Linked DNA regions of Homo sapiens: region 1 is linked to region 2. Evidence: fine-mapped expression QTL. Tissue or cell type: sigmoid colon. Region 2 holds a variant in brackets; the other region holds the start of a gene. All regions are shown on one strand. Distances are from middle to middle.

Region 1 (5,000 bases), 670 kb after region 2:
TGCATACAATGTGGACCTGACCTGGGTGGGGTGAGGGGTGAGGGGCTCAGGGGGAAGGTTCCAGCAAAACTCTGAAGACTGAGCTAGGGGAAGGGGGTAGAGATACAGGGTCTTGGACAGGCAGGTTTCTGTCATGAGATAAAGATGCAGGAGACATGTAGGGGATTTGGATCTTATGTTGAGAGCAGCAGGAGCTACGATCAAATTTTTATATATTTCACACACACACACACACATATATATATATATATATATATATATATATATACTTATTTTTTTATTTATTTTTGAGGCAGAGTCTCACTCTGTTGCCCAGGCTGGAGTGCAATGGCGCGATCTCGGCTAACTGCAACCTCTGCCTCCCGGGTTCAAGCAATTCTCTACCTCAGCCTCCCGGGTAGCTGGGATTAATAGGCGCCTGCCACCATGCCCTGCTAATTTTTGTATTTTTAGTAGAGATGGGGTTTCACCATCTTGGCCAGGCTGGTCTTGAACTCCTGACCTCGTGATCCGCCCGCGTCGGCCTCCCAAAGTGCTGGGATTATAGTCGTGAGTCACCGCACCTGGCCCAAATTTATATTTTTAAAAGATCTCTGAGGCTGTCATGAATCAATTCAAGGCAAATCAATTGGAGGTAAAAAAAAAAAAAAAAAGACAGGGCAGGGACACCAGGTAGTTGCAGACACCCAGGACAGCAAGATCAAGGGCCCAGCAACCCTAGCTTAGGGGAGAAAAACAGCTGACATTTTAGCACTTAAGATGCTCGGCATTGTGTTAAGTATGTATTAACACATTGTGTTAAGCTTTATATGTATTAATATATTTAGTCCTCACACCAACCCTATGACACAGGTACAACTTTACAGAGGAGAAAACTGAGGCAGAGGGTGACATTACTTATTCAAAGACCCCTAAACAGATGGAGCTATATTCATCCACTGGCTCTGACACTGTGCTGTGGACTCTGGGCAAATCATTTCTTCGTTTTTTGTTTTGTTTTGTTTTGTTTTGAGAGGAGTCTCACCCTGTCGCCCAGGCTGGAGTGCAATGGCGCGATCTCGGCTCACTGCAACCTCTGCCTCCCGAGTTCAAGCGATTCTCTTGCCTCAGCCTCCCGAGTAGCTGGGATTACAGGCGTGTGCCACCACGCCCGGCTAATTTTTTGTATTTTTAGTAGAGACGGGGTTTCACCGTGTTAGCCAGGATGGTCTTGATGTCCTGACCTCGTGATCTGCCCGCCTCGGCCTCCCGAAGTGCTGGGATTATATAAAGGCATGAGCCACCGCACCCGGCCCAATTCATTTCTGTTAAGTCTCAGTTTTTCTTCTCTGTGGAGGGTAAGTTTCTAACTCTTCTTCTCTGGGTCTCCCAGACATCCACAAGCGCTGGGCCCTCGTGTGGCTGGCCTGCCTACTCTTTGCCGCTGCGCTTTCCCTCATCCTCCTTCTCAAAAAGGATCACGCGAAAGGTGAGCGCTTCCCGGCTCCCCATTCCCCTGGGGGAGGACCAGAGTGGCTGTGGGAGTTCTCCGAGGGAAAGCGGCGGCCGAGCTCACTGGCTGCCTCCGCCCCTCTCCCCTAACAGGGTGGCTGAGGCTCTTGAAACAGGACGTCCGCTCGGGGGGTGAGTGGGAGCAAGCGCTGGGCGGAGGGCCGCCCCCGGGGAGCCAGGCCTGTGCCAGCTCACCTCTTCCCTCCCCATCTGTTTTCTCCGGCAGCGGCCGCCAGGGGCCGCGCGGCTCTGCTCCTCTACTCAGCCGATGACTCGGGTTTCGAGCGCCTGGTGGGCGCCCTGGCGTCGGCCCTGTGCCAGCTGCCGCTGCGCGTGGCCGTAGACCTGTGGAGCCGTCGTGAACTGAGCGCGCAGGGGCCCGTGGCTTGGTTTCACGCGCAGCGGCGCCAGACCCTGCAGGAGGGCGGCGTGGTGGTCTTGCTCTTCTCTCCCGGTGCGGTGGCGCTGTGCAGCGAGTGGCTACAGGATGGGGTGTCCGGGCCCGGGGCGCACGGCCCGCACGACGCCTTCCGCGCCTCGCTCAGCTGCGTGCTGCCCGACTTCTTGCAGGGCCGGGCGCCCGGCAGCTACGTGGGGGCCTGCTTCGACAGGCTGCTCCACCCGGACGCCGTACCCGCCCTTTTCCGCACCGTGCCCGTCTTCACACTGCCCTCCCAACTGCCAGACTTCCTGGGGGCCCTGCAGCAGCCTCGCGCCCCGCGTTCCGGGCGGCTCCAAGAGAGAGCGGAGCAAGTGTCCCGGGCCCTTCAGCCAGCCCTGGATAGCTACTTCCATCCCCCGGGGACTCCCGCGCCGGGACGCGGGGTGGGACCAGGCGCGGGACCTGGGGCGGGGGACGGGACTTAAATAAAGGCAGACGCTGTTTTTCTACCCATGTGGCCCACACGCGTCTCCGTTTCAGTGGCGGGGCTGGCAAACGTCATTCCCTAGCCCCGCGGCCCTTTAAAGCCCGGACAGGTGCAGCTCGGTGCCGCCTCTGGTTGGCTGGCGTGGGGTGACGTAATGGCACATGGCCCGTCGCCATTGGCTGGGCGGCAAGCTCCGCCCCCTGGACTGCGGCGCGGGTGGGGGTTGTGCGTTTTACGCAGGCTGTGGCAGCGACGCGGTGAGGAGACGGCCCACGGCGCCCGCGGGCTGGGGCGGTCGCTTCTTCCTTCTCCGTGGCCTACGAGGGTCTGGATCCTTCTCTGCCGGCTCGTGGGCCGTGCCTTTGCCCTTCTGCGAGGCCCTGAATCTGATCCCTTCCCTTCATATCCGGATCCGGGCTCCTCCCTCCAAGCCCGGGGTTCCGGACACCTCCCCCAAGACAACCCCTCTGGCCTCCTCTCCTTCAGTACTTGGAATCTGATCTCTTCTCCCTAATTCTGCGGATCCGGCCCCTAATATTCTTTATCAGACCCTCAGACAAGAGGCTGACTTCTGCCCCCTTGTCAAGGAGCGAGGCCACTTTCCTCTCCACCCCATGCTAGCGAGGATAACTTATTTCTCTTCTGGAATTGCATCTTATGCGCCTTTCCCCACCCATCCCCACAGCCCCTGCAATACCCAGTTTGGCCTCTTTTGCTTGTAATAACGCAGATCCCAGCGCCACGGCACCTTAGAACAGACCTTTTTCTTTCTCGCGTGGGGCCTGACTCCTTCAGTGAAGCCTCTCCACGCCCTCTATCTGCAGGTCCCCAGCCTGGGTAAAGATGGCCCCATGGCCCCCGAAGGGCCTAGTCCCAGCTATGCTCTGGGGCCTCAGCCTCTTCCTCAACCTCCCAGGACCTATCTGGCTCCAGCCCTCTCCACCTCCCCAGTCTTCTCCCCCGCCTCAGCCCCATCCGTGTCATACCTGCCGGGGACTGGTTGACAGCTTTAACAAGGTGGGTGCACCGGCAGCCTCGTTAGAGGGGAACACAGCGATTTAGAGTGGGGAACTCTGGGATGCAAATCTGCGTGGATTTAAGTTTCATCTTGGTCTCTTACTAGTTGTATGGCCCTAGGCAGGTTGCCTTTCTGTGCCTCAGTTTCCTAGTCAGTAGAACAGTGAAGTGCTAGCATGTGCCAGGCACTGTACTTAGCTATTACTAATTTTCTGTTTCCAGGGCCTGGAGAGAACCATCCGGGACAACTTTGGAGGTGGAAACACTGCCTGGGAGGAAGAGAATTTGTCCAAATACAAAGACAGGTAAGGGGCTGCTGGGGGAAGGGGTGTATATTCCCCTCCCCGCCAAATCTCTGCTCTGCTGGTGTAGGGCTAGGAACTCTTGGGGAGCACTTATTCATTCAACAAATAGCACTGAACATCTATAGTATAGCAGTAAACAAGGCAAGCAAAATGCCCCCTTCCTGGAGCTCACATTCTAGTAGAGAAGACAAGCAGTGAATGAGTAAGTGAATAATATTATGTCAGATGAAGAACAAACAGTGAAGCACGGTAGACTGCAGGACGGTGGGAGGCAAGGTGTTCAAGGTTTGGCATTTGAACAGAGAGACAGGAAGTGAAGAAGCGAGCTATGTGACAGGGAGGGAATTGGGCAGAGGATGGGACTGAGCTTGGTGTATTTGAGAAGTGGCTGGAGTGGAGTGAGCCAAGGGGAGAGTGCTAGAAGGTGAAGGCAAAGGCTTAAGCCTCGAGGGCTACAGAAAAGAGTTTAGATTTTTTTTGGAGTGTAATGGGAAGCTCTTGGAAGGCTATGAGCAGAAAAAGTGATACTGTCTTCTCTACACCTTTAAAGATTACTCACACTGCTATGTAGCAAACGGATTGTAAGGGGCAAGGGCGGAGGAAGCAGGGAGACCAGTTTGGGAGGCAAGTGCATCATCTAGGTACAAAGGCAACACAAGCTAGTGTGGTATCTAGTGGAGGACATGATGAAGAGGTCACAGTCTGGGTATATTTTGCAGAGAGAACAATAGGACCTGGTGATAGATTCATTATGGGTATAGAGAAACAGTAGAATAAAAGATGCTTACTAGATTTTGGGCCTGAGCAACTGGGTGAGTAGTGCAGCTGTTTTCTAAGATGGTGAGATGCGAAACCGAGAAGGTTTAGGGGAGGGGTGGGATGTGGTGTTCTTTGAACGTATTGGGCTGAAATGTCCATTAGACATCCAGGTAGACTCCATACAAATCTGGAATTCAGAAAAGAGTAGGAATTGGAAACAGGAATTTGAGAGTTGTCATTATATAGTCAGTATGTAAAGAAAGCCATGGGAAGGATACAGAAAGCCATTATATAGTCAATATATGTAATACAGAAAGCCATTTATATAGTCAGTATGTAAAGAAAGGCATGGGAAGGATACAGAAAGGCGAGCCCTGAGCCCTCCAGCTTTTCAAAGTCAGATGGAAGAGGAGTCAGCAAAGGCTCAGAGTTAGACCTGGTTGTCGGTTCTTAACCTCTCAGAGCCACAGTTTCTTCACCTGTAAAATGGGGATATTAATACCTGGTTTGCCTATTTCATAGAAGTGTGGAAAAGGCTTAACTGGGATGCCCACTAGAA
Region 2 (7,575 bases):
TGGAAATGGTTTTGTGGGAGGTAATTAGGGTTAAATGAGGTCATGAGGATGGGGCCCTTATGATGGGATTAGTGCCCTTTGAAGGAAGACACCAAAGCGAACTCTCTCTCTTTCTCTCTGCCCTATGAGGACACATTGAGAAGATGGTCATCTGAAAGCCAGGAAAAGAGACTGCTCCAGAACCTGACCATGCTGGCACCCTAATCTCAGATTTCCACCCTCCAGAACTGTGAGAAAATACATGTCTGATTTTTAAGCCCCCAAGTATATGGTATTTCTTTATGGCACCCTAAGCTAACACATTCAGGTTAGGAAGCCTAAATAATGGTTGTTTGAAAAAAATAATAATAACAATGTGCAAAAGAAGGGCATAGGAAAAGAGAGTGGTCTACCAAATGCTATAAATAGATGATTTTTACGAATTCATTTACTCACTCATTAAACAAAATAGCTCCTTTTTTTTTTTTTTTTTTTTTTTTTTGAGACAGTCTCACTCTGTCGTCCAGGCTGGAGCACAGTAGCATGATCTTGGCTCACTGCAACCTCTGCCTCCTAGGTTCAAGCAATTCTCCTGCCTCAGCCTCCTGAGTAGCTGGGATTACAGGCACCCACGACCGCGCCTGGCTAATTTTTGTATTTTTAGTAGAGACGGGGTTTCACCATCTTGGTGAGGCTGGTCTCGAACTCCTGACCTTGTGATCCACCTGCCTTGGTCTCCCAAAGTGCTGGGATTATAGGCATAAGCCACCACACTTGGCCTAAACAAAATATATCTTAAGCACTCGATATAGTCTAGGCATTGAGATATGCACAATCATGAACTGGACAGAGATAGTTCCTACTGTTGTGAAGACCTCAGTTTAATGGAAGAGACTGGTAAACAGGCAATTGTAATTCAACATTATGGAGAAGCACAGGGTCCCATGGGATCTCATGTAAGGGCACTTGACCTAGACTTGGAAACACAGAAGCGGTTTCTTGGAGGCGAAAATTTCTAAGCTGAGCTTAGAAAGACAAACAGCTGGAGAGAACCCACCCAAGTAGGGGAGGGAAAGTATTCCCAGCTAAGGGAACTGCATGAGCCAAGGGGACAATTGGTATAGCTGGAGCAGAGTGCCAGGCAGAGAGTGGGAGAGGTGATGCTGGACAGAGACATGGGCTGGAGTGTGAGAAGCTTCCTAGGCTGTATTAACAAGCTCGGAGTTTCATCTGGGTTCCCCCAGGAGCCCTGAAGGGAACTGACATCAGATTGGCCTTTGAGGAAGGTGACTCTAGTGGCAGTGTGGAAACCAGACTAGAACAGGCAAGACAAGGAGCTAGAAAATATTTTGAGAGACAAAGATGGGTTAGACAAGATGATGCCACGTACCATCATACTGAAAATACTGGCGACTTTATAGACACTAGCTCTCTGCATCCTCTTATCAGTGGCACCACATACCAGGTGCTATCATTGCCCCCTGTATTTTCGGATGCAGAATTGAGCTACAACACGAATACTGCCTCCCTCTAGGGTTAGCTACTGCCCTTTCTCCGTGATCCCAAGGCCTCAATTTCTCCCACCTGAACAGCTTTAGAGCTCCCTGCTGGTCCCTCTGTCTCTGATCGTGCCTCCCTCCTATTTGCGATCAACCCTGGAACCCGAGTGAGCTTTTCACGTGTGAATCAGATCATAATAATTTCCCGTGGGCAGCCTGCGATGTCCTCCTCGCACTTAAGAGTTGAATGCACGCTCCTCCCCATGAGCCCACGGGATTGGGCATCCGCCTCGCTCCTAAGCCCATCTCTTGCTTCTCTCCCTCTTGCTCCCTACTCCGGGCCATGCTTGGCCTTCTTATATTTCTGCAGTGCTCCCAGCACTTGCTATTCATTCAGATCCTCCCCGGGTCCTGGCTCCTGCGTCGCCTTCTCACACAGGCCCACCCAGACCACCCTAACCAAACGACTACTCCAGCACATTTCCCTGTTTCTTTTTTTTCATATGGCTACCACATTTGAAGTTATCTTATTTACCTACTTTGGTGGGGAGTGGGTAATTTTTTCTTTTTTTTTAGAGAGAGGGTCATGCCCTGTCACCCAGGCTAGAGTGAAATGACATGATCACAGACTTCTGCAGCCTGGACTTCCTGGGCTCAAGCGATCCTCCCCTTTCAGCCTCCCAAGTAGCTGGGACTACAGATCATACTGAAACACCAGGTGTGACCTGAAACACCAGGTGCCCAGCTAATTTTTTTATTTTTTTGTAGAGATGGTGGTGGTCTCACTGTATTGCTGAGGCTGGCCTCAAAGACCTGGGCTCAAAGGATCTTCCTGCCTCGGCCTCCAAAATGTTGGGATTACAGGCATGAGCCACTGCACCCAGCTACATATTTGTTTGTTCACTTAATGACTATTTCTGGACTCTCCACACCCCACCTCCACTAGACCAACATGTCTAAGAGAATATTCTGCATCGGTGAAAATTTTCTGTACCTGCACTGTCCAATACGATTGTCACTAGTCCCAGGTGGCCATTGAGCACTTAAAATGTGGCAAGTGTGACTGCAGAATTCAATTTTTAGGTTGGCTTCATTTAATGAGTTTAAATCTAAATAGCTGGGGGCCAGGGGTGGGGCTGGCAAGATGGCCAAACAGGAACAGCTCTGATCTGCAGCTCCCAGCGAGACCAAGAAGACGGGTGACTTCTGCATTTCCAACTGAGGTACCCACCTCATCTCATTGGGCCTGGTTAGACAGTGGGTACAGCCCACAGAGGGCAAGCAGAAGCAGGGTGGGGCGTCGCCTTACCTGGGAAGCACAAGGAGTCAGGGAACCCCCTTCCCTAGCCAAGGGAAGTCGTGAGGAACTGTGCCGTGAGGGACAGTGCTATCCAGCCCAGATACTATGCTTTTCCCATTGTCTTCGCAACCCACCGACCAGGAGATTCCCTCGGGTGCCTACACCACCAGGGCCCTGGGTTTCAAGCACAAAAATGGGTGGCAATTTGGGCAGACACTGAGCTAGCTGCAGGAGTTTTTTTCGTACCCCAGTGGTGCCTGGAATGCCAGAGAGATAGAACCGTTCACTCCCATGGAAAGGGGGCTGAAGACAGGGAGCCGAGTGATTGTGCTAAGTGGACCCCACCCCCATGGAGTCCAGCAAGCTAAGATTCACTGTCTTGAAATTATCGCTGCCAGCACAGCACTCTAAAGTCGACCTGCGATGCTGAGCTTGGTGTGGGGAGGGGCGTCCGCCATTAAGGAGGCTTGAGTAGGTTGTTTTCCCCTTATAATGTAAATAAAGCCACTGGGAAGTTCAAACGATGCGGAACCCACTGCGGCGTGGCATCGCCACTGTAGCCAGACTGCCTCTCTAGATTCCTCCTCTCTGGGCAGGGCATCTCTGAAAGAAAGGCAGCAGCCCCAGTCAGCGGCTTATAGATACAATTCCCATCTCCCTGGGACAGAGAACCTGGGGGAAGGGGCAACTGTGGGCGCAGCTTCAACAGACTTAAACGTTCCTGCCTGCCAGCTCTGAAGTGAAGATTCACAGCTCTGAAGTGAAGAAATCACAGAGAAATCTCTCTGAAGAGAGCAGTGGTTCTCCCAGCACAGTGCTTGAGCTCTGCTAAGGGACAGACTGCATCCTCAAGCGGATCCCTGACCCCCGTGCCTCCTGACGGGGAGACACCTCCCAGCAGGGGTTGACAGACACCTTATACAGGAGTGCTCCAGCTGGCATCTGGCGGGTGCCCCTCTGGGACAAAGCTTCCAG[A/G]GGAAGAAGCAGGCAGCAATCTTTGCTGTTCTGCAGTCTCCACTGGTGATACCCAGGCAAACAGGATCTGGAGTGGACCTCCAGCAAACTCCAGCAGACCTGCAGAAGAGGGGCCTGTTAGAAGGAAAGCTAACAAACAGAAAGCAATAGCATCAACATCAACAAAAAGGACGTCCACGCAAAAGCTCCATCCAAAGGTCACCAACATCAAAGGCCAAAGGTAGATAAAGCCATGAAGATGAGGAAAAACCGAAGCAAAAAGGCTGAAAATTCCAAAAACCAGAATGCCTCTTCTCCTCCAAAGGATCAAAACTCCTCACAAGCAAGGGAACAAAGCTGGATGGGGAATGAGTTTGACAAATTAACAGAAGTAGGCTTCAGAAGGTGGGTAATAACAAACTCCTCTGAGCTAAAGAAGCATGTTCTAACTAAATGCAAGGAAACTAAGAACCTTGATAAAAGGTTACAGGAACTGCTAACTAGAATAACCAGTTTAGAAAAGAACATAAATGACCTGATGGAACTGAAAAACACAGCACAAGAACTTCGTGAAGCATACACAAGTATCAATAGCCAAATCAATCAAGCAGAAGAAAGGATATCAGACATTGAAGATGAACTTAATGAAATAAGCATGAAGACAAGATTAGAGAAAAAAGAATGAAAAGGAACGAATAAAGCCCCCAAGAAATATGAGACTATGTGAAAAGACCAAACCTACGTTTGATTGGTGTACCTGAAAGTGACAGGGAGAATGGAACCAAGCTGGAAAACACACTTCAGGATATTATCCAGGAGAACTTCCCCAACCTAGCAAGACAGGTCAACATTCAAATTCAGGAAATACAGAGAACACCACAAAGATACTCCTCATATATTTAAAAAAAAAAAAAAAAAAAGACACATAATCCTCAGATTCACCAAGGTTGAAATGCAGGAAAAAATGTTTAGGGCAGCCAGAGAGAAAGGTCGGGTTACCTACAAAGGGAAGCCCATCAGACTAACAGTGGATCTCTCTGCAGAAACCCTACAAGCCAGAACAGAGTGGGGGCCCATATTCAACATTTTTAAAGAAAAGAATTTTCAACCCAGAATTTCATATCCAGCCAAACTAAGCTTCATAAGAGAAGGAGAAATAAAATCCTTTACAGACAAGCAAATGCTGAGAGATTTTGTCACCACCAGGGCTGCCTTACAAGAGTTCCTGAAGAAAACACTAAATATGGAAAGGAAAAACTGGTACCAGCCACTGCAAAAACATACCAAAATGTAAAGACCACAACACTATGAAGAAACTGCATCAACTAATACGCAAAATAACCAGCTAGCATCATAATGACAGGATCAAATTCACACATAACAATATTAACTTTAAATGTAAATGGATTAAATGCCCCAATTAAAAGACATAGACTGGCAAATTGAATAAAGTCAAGACCCATCGGTGTGCTGTATTCAGGAGACCCATCTCACGTGCAAAGACACACATAGGCTCAAAATAAAGGGATGGAGGAAGATTTACCAAGCAAATGGAAAGCAAAAAAAAAAAAAAAAAAAAAAGCAGTGGTTGCAATCCTAGTCTCTGATAAAATAGACTTCAAACCAACAAATATCAAAAAAGAAAAAGAAGGGCATTACATAATGGTAAAGGGATCAATGCACAAGAAGAGCTAATTATCCTAAATATATATGCACCCAATACAGGAGAACCCAGATTCATAAAGCAAGTTCTTAGAGACCTACAAAGAGACTTAGACTCCCACACAATAATAGTGGGAGACTTTAACACCCCACTGTCAATATTAGACAGATCAACAAAACAGAAAATTAACAAGGATATTCAGGACTTGAACTCAGCTTTGGACCAAGTGGGCCTAATAGACATCTACAGAACTCTCCACCCCAAATCAACAGAGTATACATTCTTCTCTGCACCAAATAGCACTTATTCTAAAATTGACCACATAATTGGAAGTAAAACACTCCTCAGCAAATGCAAAAGAATGGAAATCATAACAGTCTCTCAGACCACAGTGCAATCAAATTAGAACTCAGGATTAAGAAGTTCATTCAAAACCACACAACTACATGGAAACTGAACAACCTGCTCCTGAATGATTATTGGGTAAATAACGAAATTAAGGCAAAAATAAATAAGTTCTTTGAAACCAATGAGAACAAAGATACGAAGTACCAGAATCTCTGGGACACAGCTAAAGCAGTGCTTAAAGGGAAATTTATAGCACTAAATGCCCTCAGAAGAAAGCAGGAAAGATCTAAAATCGATACCCTAACATCACAATTAAAAGAACTAGAGAAGCAAGAACAAACAAATTCAAAAGCTACCAGAAGACGAGAAATAACTAAGATCAGAGCAGAACAGAAGGAGACAGAGACATGAAAAACCCTTCAAAAAAAAATCAATGAATCCAGGAGCTAGCTTTTTTGAAAAAATTAACAAAATAGATAGACTGCTAGCCAGGCTAATAAACAAGAAAAGAGAGATGAATCAAATAGACACAAGAAAAAATGATAACGGGGATATCACCACTGATCCCACAGAAATACAAACTACCATCAGAGAATACTATAAACACCTCTATGCAAATAAACTAGAAAATCTAGAAGTAATGGATACATTCCTGGACACATACACCCTCCCAAGCCTCAACCAGGAAAAACTTGAATCCCTGAAGAGACCAATAACAAGTTCTGAAATTGAAGCATAATTAATAACCTACCAACAAAAAAAGCCCAGGACCAGAGAGATTCACAGCTGAATTCTACCAGAGGTACAAAGAGGAGCTGGTACCATTTCTTCTGAAACTATTCCAAACAATAGAAAAAGAGGGACTCCTCCCTAACTCATGTTATGAAGCCAGCATCATCCTGATACTAAAACCTGGCAGAGACACAACAAAAAGAGAAAATTTCAGGCCAATATCCCTGATGAATATAGATGCAAAAATCCTCAATAAAATATTGGCAAACCGAATCCAGCAGCACGTTCTAAAGCTTATCCACCACAATCAAGATGGCTTCATTCCTGGGATGCAAGGCTGGTTCAACATAAGCAAATCAATAAACATAATCCATCACATAAACAGAACCAATGACAAAAACCACATGATTATCTCAATAGATGCAGAAAAGGTCTTCGATAAAATTCAACACCCCTTCATGCTAAAAACACTCAATAAACTAGGTATTGATGGACCATATCTCAAAATAATAAGAGCTATTTATGACAAACCCACAGCCAGTATCATACTGAATGGGCAAAAGCCGGAAGCATTCCCTTTGAAAACTGGCACAAGACAAGGATGCCCTCTCTCACCACTCCTATTAAACATAGTATTGGAAAATCTGGCCAGGGCAATCAGGCAAGAGAAAGAAATAAAAAGTATTCAAATAGGAAGAGAGGAAGTCAAATTGTCTCTGTTTGCAGATGACATGATTGTATATTTAGAAAATCCCATCATCTCAGCCCAAAAACTCTGTAAGCTGATAAGCAACTTCAGCAAAGTCTCAGGTTACAAAATCCATGTGCAAAAATCACAAGCATTCCTATACACCAATAACAGACAAACAAAGAACCAAATCATGAGTGAACTCCCATTCACAATTGCTACAAAGGGAATAAAATACCTAAAAATACAACTTACGAGGGGTGTGAAAGACCTCTTCAAGGAGAACTACAGAGCACTGCTCAAGGAAATAAGAGAGGACACAAACAAATGAAAAAACATTCCATGCTCATGGATAGGAAGAATGAATATCATGAAAATGGCCATACTGCCCAAAGTAATTTATAGATTCAGT

What was found. PIP is the estimated chance that this variant, and not a neighbour inherited with it, causes the effect.
Region 1: CRELD1 starts here. The variant in region 2 is fine-mapped to the expression of CRELD1 in sigmoid colon (GTEx, PIP above 0.99).

Annotation. Positions count from the first base shown.
Region 1 is chr3:9,931,236-9,936,235 of GRCh38, forward strand. It overlaps CRELD1 (CRELD disulfide isomerase 1), which reads left to right and starts at 2,599. Exons shown (of 11, transcript NM_001077415.3): 1 at 2,599-2,685; 2 at 3,185-3,377; 3 at 3,600-3,682. The coding sequence starts at 3,204. It overlaps IL17RC (interleukin 17 receptor C), which reads left to right. Exons shown (of 19, transcript NM_153460.4): 17 at 1,373-1,468; 18 at 1,585-1,623; 19 at 1,718-2,386. The coding sequence ends at 2,358. RefSeq lists silencers at 1,571-1,630, 2,211-2,540 and an enhancer at 2,641-3,010.
Region 2 is chr3:9,257,244-9,264,818 of GRCh38, forward strand. It overlaps SRGAP3-AS4 (SRGAP3 antisense RNA 4), which reads left to right. Exons shown (of 3, transcript NR_146969.1): 3 at 130-264. It also overlaps a transcript of SRGAP3 not described here. Among named protein-coding and RNA genes, the nearest start is that of SRGAP3-AS4, 11 kb to the left of the region's middle. The variant A/G (reference allele first, on the strand shown) is at 3,754.